Homo sapiens: one gene and its partner. The protein of the gene in region 1 interacts with the protein of each later gene in a pairwise test. Each region holds a gene or a part of one and is shown on either strand. Other genes may lie near its edges.

Region 1 (3,749 bases):
CTCAGTTGTCCCCTGGAGGGTGCATACACTCACCGCAGCCTCGAAAGCCCTCTTGAGGCTGGCCAGCTCGTAGAGGACACAGCCCAGGGCCCAGATGTCACTCTTCTGGTTGTAGGGCTTGCCCTCACACAGCTCAGGGGAGATATAGCATGGGGTACCCACCACCTGCAGGATAGAAGCTGGGATCACAGCCCTGCAGGGAGGGAAGACCAGGGGCTCTGTGCATAAGCCCATTTGGGGACAGCTTCTTCTCAAAGCAAGCCAAGGGGCTTCCTCCTGCAGAACCACCCAAACAGGGGCCAAAGGGCCAAGGGTTTTTTAGGGGGAGGGGAGGAGGCAGGGTTAGGTCCTGGCCCTCAAGACTTCTAGTGCCCTGGAGGTCCCTTCCATGCCCAGGCACCGTGTAGGCCTTGCTCTTGCTGCTAAGGATCTTGGAGATGCCGAAATCACCGATCTTGACGACCATGCGGTGTTTGTCAAGCAGGATGTTCTGGGTCTTGAGGTCTCGGTGCAGGATGAGGTGGGTGTGCACATGATGCAGTGCAAGCAGGATCTGCACGAAGAAGTGCAGGATGGTCTCCTCCTCCAGCAGGGAATTACAGCGCTTTTGGATGAACTCAGCCAGAGTGCCGCCTGTGGCCCAAGGGACTAATCAAGATCCAGGCTTTCTCACACCTACGACAACCCCTCTCCATTGTTGTTGTTGTTTTTTTTTTTTGAGATGGAGTCTCGCTCTGTTGCCCAGGCTGGAGTGCAGTGGCATGATCTCAGCTCACTGCTGCAAGCCCCCCCTCCCGGGTTCAAGCCATTCTCCTGCCTCAGCCTCCTTAGTAGCTGGGACTACAGGTGCCTGCCACCACACCCGGCTAATTTTTTTTTTTTTTTGTATTTTTAGTAGAGACGGGGTTTCCCCGTGTTAAACAGGATGGTCTCGATCTCCTGACCTCATGATCCGCCCGCCTCGGCGTTGGCCTCCCAAAGTGCTGAGATTACAGGCATGAGCCACCGTGCCCAGCCAACAACCCCTCTCCTTTTATGTATGGAACAGGGCACTGGGACCAGAGAGGACAAGGGGCTAGCCGGGGTCAGATAATTGGGACCAGAACTCTAACCCTTGGCCATGCCCATTCCAAGGAGGGAAGCCAGGAGATCTGTGTCTGCCTGTCCCAGAGGTAAGAGGCCCTCCAGCCAGGCCACTGTAAGGAGGCTGGCCCACCTGGTGCATATTCCATGGCGATCATAAGGGCTTTGTCTTCCAGGAAGTTCTCGTAGTACTCAATGACATTGGGGTGGTTGAGCAGCTTGAGGACCTGGCACTCATTCTGGGCTGCCTGCCGCTCTTCCTTGGTCATCTGTTCCACTGGAATCTGCTTGATGATCACCAGCTTCTGGTCAGCCTTTCGCAGGCACAGGTGCACAATCCTAGGGATACGGAGGACAGGGACAGGTTACCAGCTAAGCCTCCAGCCACATATCAGGCAGGGCGGTGCAGCCTAGTGACTGATGTCTCTTGGAAGAGGGTTCTAGACTGAGAGGTCATCTAACCAAGCGCACAGAACACTGAACTTGGGAACAGGGAGAACTGATTACAAGCTGTGTGGGACTTCAGTTTCACCACAGGCACTGTGAGGTAAAGTTAGTCTTGATCTCTAAGTTCCCACAGACTGCCTGGGTTCAAATCTGGGTGCCTCCTCTTACTAGTTATCTGGTTTGATACATTATGTGACATCATTGTCTGGAAAATGAAATGGGCCTCCCAGGGTTGTTGAGAGGATGGAATGAGAAAATGCATGTAAGGCACTGAGTGCAGTGACCAGCACAAAGAAAACGCTCAATGAATAGAAGCCATTCATATTATTTTATTTTAATTCTGTGGTTAGTCTCCATAAAAGCAGGGACTACAACATTCTTGTTCACCACAATAACCCCAGTGCATAGCCCAATATTTAGCACACAATAGGCAGTCAATAAGTATTTGTTGAATGAGTGGACTATAAGCTGATCTAAGTCTCAAATTTTTACCTCCAGATCAGGCTTCTCTTCTGAACCCTAGACTCAGATATCCACTTGAATGGCTCACAGTCATCCTAAATTTTAACAAATTCAAAATAAAACTCTTGATTCCTGCCTCCAAACCTTTCCTTGCTCAGTCTCTTCCATCTCAGTAAATGCTACCATCATCCTCCAGTTATTAAAATCAGAAACTGCTAAAATCAGAAACCTGAGGCAGGGCCAAGTGGCTAAGGCCTGTGATCTCAGCACTTTGGGAGGCCAAGGCAGGTAGATCACTTGAGTCCAGGCGTTCAAGACCAGCCTGAGCAACATGGTGAAACCCACTCTCGCAAAAAAAAAAAAAAAAAAAAATTAGCTGAGCATGGTGGCAAGCCTCTGTGGTCCCAGCTGCTCTGGAGGATGAGGTGGGAGGATCACCTGAGCCTAGGACATTGAAGATACAGTTAGCCATGATTGCGCCACTGCACTCCAGCCTGGGTGACCAAGTGAGATGGTCTCAAAACAAAACAACAAAAAAACAGACACTTGAAAATCAGCCTAGGCCGGGCGAAATGGCTCACACTTGTAATACTAACACTTTGGGAGGCCGAGGTGGGTGGAGCATTTGAGGTCAGGAATTTGAGAACAACCTGGCCAAAATGGTGAAACCCCATCTCCACCCAAAATACAAAAATTAGCTGGGTGTGGTGGCAGGCGCCTGTAATCCCAGCTACTCGGGAGGCTGAGGCAGCAGAATGGCCTGAACCTGGGAGGTGGAGCTTGCTGTGAGCCGAGATGGCGCCACTGCACTCCAGCCTGGGCGACAGAGTGAGACTCCACCTCAAAAAAAAAAAAAAAAAAAAAAAAGAAAAGAAAAAAGAAAATCGCCCTAGAATCTTTCCTCCATTTCACACAAGCAAATCCTATTTCTACCTCTGCAATACTGTAAATCCATCCAATTCTCTGTGCCCTCTCTACAGCCCTTGCCCTATAGTCATCATAATTTCTCGCCTAAAATACTGTATAACTCTCCAAAATGGTCCCTTTCACTCCTGTCACCCTCAAATCTAAATTCTACATGAACCAGAATGACATTTATTTTTTATTTATTTTTCTTTTTTTTATAGATATGGGTCTCACTATGTTGGCCAGGTTGGTCTTGAACTCGTGGCCTCAAGATATGCTCCCACCTCGGCCTCCCAAAGTGCTGGGATTATGGGCATGAGCCACCATGCCCAGCCCCAGAATGCAATTTAAAAATCTTACTATCCTGGCTAACACGATGAAACCCCGTCTCTACTAAAAATACAAAAAATTAGCTAGGCATGCTGGTGGGTGCCTGTAGTCCCAGCTACTCGGGAGACTGAGGCAGTAGAATGGCGTGAACCCGTGAGGCGGAGCTTGCAGTGAGCCTAGATTGCGCCACTGCAGTCCAGCCTAGAAGATAGAGCAAGACTCCGTCTCAAAAAAAAAAAAAAAAAAAAAAAAAAAAAAAAAAAAAAAATTGGGGCCAGGCGCGGTGGCTCACGCCTGTAATCCCAGGCCTTTGGGAGACTGAGGCAGGCGGATCACGAGGTCAGCAGATCGAGACCATACTGGCTAACATGGTGAAACCCCGTCTCTACTAAAAAATACAAAAAAATTAGCCGGGAGTGGTGGCGGGCGCCTGTAGTTCCAGCTGCTAGGGAGGCTGAGGCAGAAGAATGGCGTGAACCTGGGAGGCGGAGCTTGCAATGAGCCGAGATGGTGCCACTGCA
Region 2 (3,749 bases), on another chromosome or scaffold:
CATTTCCTTGTAACGTGGGGGCTGACACCTGGAGGCCCAGGCTTCCCCTGCTGGCCCACAGTGGCAGGGCTCTGGGGATGAGTGCTGGCCTGCCCGGAGGGTTGGGCACAGGGGTGAAGTGGAAGTTGACTCAAAACCCTGGAAGGTTCCAATCACAGGGCCTGAGGGCAGACAATGCCTGTGTTTAAATTCCAGCCCTGCCTGGGTATGGTGGCTCACGCCTGTAATCCCAGCGCTGTGGAGTTCGAAACCAGCCTGGCCAACATGGCAAAACCCCATCTCTACTAAAAATAAAAAATACTAGCTGGGCATGGTGGCAGGTGCCTGTAATCCCAGCTACTCGGGAGGCCGAGGCAGGAGAATCGCTTGAACCTGGGAAGCAGAGGTTGCAGTGAGCCGAGACCATGCCACTGCACTCCAGCCTGGGCAACAGAGCGAGACTCCATCTCAAAAACAAAACAAAACAAAATCCATCCCTGTCACTGTATAGCTGTGGGGCCTCAGGCAAGGTAAACTCTGTGTCCTAGTGAGCTCTTCCCCTGAAGTGGGGATGATGATGATGGTAATGTCTTAGGTTTTTTGTGATTTAATGACAAAGTGCTTGGATTTCACTAAGCCCATAGGAGATGTTGATTGCTCTGATGTTTGGCTCTTCCTAGACAAGGTGATCTGCCTGCTTCGGCCTCCCATAGTGCTGGGATTACAGGCGTGAGCCACTGTGCCCGGCCTGTTTTTGGTTGTATAATACTTTAAAAGATTGATGAAAAACCTTGCCTTAAAAAAAATCATGACAAAATAAAAATATGTGGAAGCCATAAATTAAAGGACAAAAATTATCTTGCTCCTTATTAATTCAAAATGAAAATAACTTTTTGGACTCAGTATTCAAACATGTCAACTGAATATTACCAATTTAACAACGCAAACTTAAGAAAGCAAAACGTAACGACGCAAAATTAAGTAAGCCAACGACCCCACCACCTGGTCTGCCTACACCAGACATATGGGAGTCATTTGAGACGGTGGGGTTTGCCTCAAATCCGACTCTTCCTCTCTAGCGTCTTCAGCTGGCCTAGCTAGGCCCTCACCATGTCCCTTTGGACTCCTGAATTAGTTTTCTAACGTCTTCTGCCCCTGGTCTTCTCCAAATTCACTCTGCAGCCCTACTGGTCTTTCAAAAATCAAAATTTGATGATATAAACAGGCTAAAATCCAAGGGCTTCCCAAGATAAAAATCCAGACACTTCGCCATGATGCCCAAACCTCTCCATGCTCTCCGACTACCCCTTCTCTAAGTCTCCTCCTGCTGCCTGCCCCCAGCCCTAATAGTTTGGTAAGCACCCTCCCTTTCTGGCACAATCTGTGTATACTTGCAGTGATCACACAACTTCATGCTCTTCCCCTGGGCTCGCCTGGTCCTGTCTCCTGGGATGTCCCCATCCTGCTGTGTTTGTGGAAATTTCCTTTTCACTATCCTTGGTCCATCTGTAGCCTCCTTGAGTATTTTTCTCATTCTCGCCCACCCCTTTGTGGATGGCTCACCCCCGAGCCCCAGTGAGTGCTGAGAGTGTGGCCAGGGGTCCTGGTCTGTCCGCCCACATCTCCAGGAGCTCCATGACAGGAGAGGCCCTGCTTCTTCAACTTGACATTCCTGTCGGCACATAGTAGGAAATAACTAATAGTTTTATAATTAGAGCTACAAGGCACCCAATTTGAGAACAATCTGACCTCCTAAATTTTATTTTATTATTATTATTTTTTTGAAATGGAGTTTTGCTCTTGTTGCCCAGGCTGGAGTGCAATGACGCAATCTCTACTCACTGCAACCTCCGCCTCCCGGGTTGAAGTGATTCTCCTGCCTCAGTCTCCTGAGTAGCTGGGATTACAGATGAATGCTACCACACCTGGCTAATTTTTTGTATTTTTAGTAGAGATGGGGTTTCACCATGTTGGCCAGGCTGGTCTCGAACTCCTGACCTCAGGTGATCCACCTGCCTCGGCCTGCCAAAATGCTGCGATTACAGAAGTTGGCCACTGTGCCAGGGCTGGCCTCCTACATTTTAGATTTGAAGAAACTGAAACACTGACAGGTGGAAACTTGCCCAATCTCATTCATCTGATAATTTCTTGAATGAAAAAGCCAGCCTGGGGAAAACCTTTTCAGCATCAGTATCACATCTGTGATGCTGCTGCTCTATAACATCAAGATACCTAAATACAAGATTTTTCTCAGAATAACAAGATAATTTTATTTAAAGGAACGTCTTAGGGTATAATATTTGTAAACAGTGTTCAGTGTCAAATGGAGACTCCAGGGGATACTTTTTCCAGAAAAATGCACAAAATTTTTCACAGATTTCAGAGGACACTTGGAGCCCTCTGCAAGTCCACAGTCAAAGTGATCTGAAAACCGTGAATGTGGGTGCAGCTGTTTGGTCATGTTCAGCTTGACCCAGAACATCAACTGCAAAATGTAGAAAACAGCTGCACCCGCATTCACGGTATTCAGATCCCTTTGACTGTGGACCTGCAGAGCGGCTCCAAATGTCCTCTGAAATTGGTGAAAAATTTTGTGCATTTTTCTGGAAAAAGTTAAAAGTAATGGCGAGGCCGGGCACGGTGGCTCACGCCTGTAATCCCAGCACTTTGGGAGGCTAAGGCAGGTGGATCACGAGGTCAAGAGATCAAGACCATCCTGGCCAACATGGTGAAACCCTGTCTCTACTAAAAATACAAAAATTAGCCAGGCCTGGTGGTGCGCACCTATAATCCCAGCTACTCTGGAGGCTGAGGCAGGAGAATTGCTTGAACCCGGGAGGCAGAAGTTGCAGTGAGCCAAGATTGCACCATTGCACTCCAGCCTGGGCGACAGAGTGAGACTCCATCTCAAAAAAAAAAAAAAAAGGCAATTACTTTTGTTTAGTTTTTTGAGATGGAGTTTTGCTGTTGTCACCCAGGCTGGAGTGCAATGGCACAATCTCGGCTCACTGCATCCTCTGCCTCCTAGGTTCAAGCGATTCTCCTGCCTCAGCCTCCCAAGTAGCTGGGATTACAGGCGCCCATGACCACACCAGGCTAATTTTTGTATTTTTAGTAGAGACGGGGTTTCACCATGTTGGTCAGGCTGGTCTCCAACTCCTCACCTCAGGTGATCCGCCCGCCTCAGCCTCCCAAAGTGCTGGGATTACAGACGTGAGCCACTGTGCCCGGCCTATGGCAATTACTTTTGCACCAAGTTAATTTTACCAACAGCCTTGGGAAAAGGCATCTCGTGGTCACATACCTCCTTAGGAGAAAGTATAGAAATGTAGTCTTCATAGATTATCCTTGCTTTCTCTTCAATAATGTTTTTATTAGCTTCCTTTTTCAGTTCCTCACAGGCCATCCAGAAGAGCATATTTTCCTCACTGAATTCTGTTCGGAGGAATTCACGGAATGCATTCCTTCCTGCTGGAGTGACCATTAATTTGTCAAATGACTGAGCCCAGGCGTTGACTTCTTCCAGAGTAGGAGCAGGGCTTCGTGGAGACCAAAAGAGAGGGGGCAAAAGGGAACTGTTAGTGGTAGTTAATTGGAATTCATCATTAGGAACATATCTTTTCCTCCTCCAAGAATGAAAAATATATGCATTTAGGCCCTTTTAGGAAGGGAAAGAACTGTTCGCATTTCCTCAAACCTTTGGGAAAAACACATGAATATGATACTTTCAAATTTTTTGCTGGATTGCATACCAAAAGGCTTGCAAACCA

Evidence for each region. Proteins that work in one complex are often made in the same cells at the same time.
Region 2: the proteins of NEK8 (region 1) and RGS20 interact in binary tests that used the Homo sapiens proteins (3 or more experiments, as listed by UniProt).

What each region holds. Positions count from the first base shown.
Region 1 is NC_000017.11:28,731,656-28,735,404, reverse strand, and holds part of NEK8 (serine/threonine-protein kinase Nek8), read right to left. Parts: intron 1,423-3,749; coding exon 1,217-1,422; intron 634-1,216; coding exon 401-633; intron 166-400; coding exon 34-165; intron 1-33. UniProt on the Homo sapiens protein: Required for renal tubular integrity. May regulate local cytoskeletal structure in kidney tubule epithelial cells. May regulate ciliary biogenesis through targeting of proteins to the cilia.
Region 2 is NC_000008.11:53,953,845-53,957,593, reverse strand, and holds part of RGS20 (regulator of G-protein signaling 20), read right to left. Parts: intron 3,519-3,749; coding exon 3,284-3,518; intron 1-3,283. UniProt on the Homo sapiens protein: Inhibits signal transduction by increasing the GTPase activity of G protein alpha subunits thereby driving them into their inactive GDP-bound form.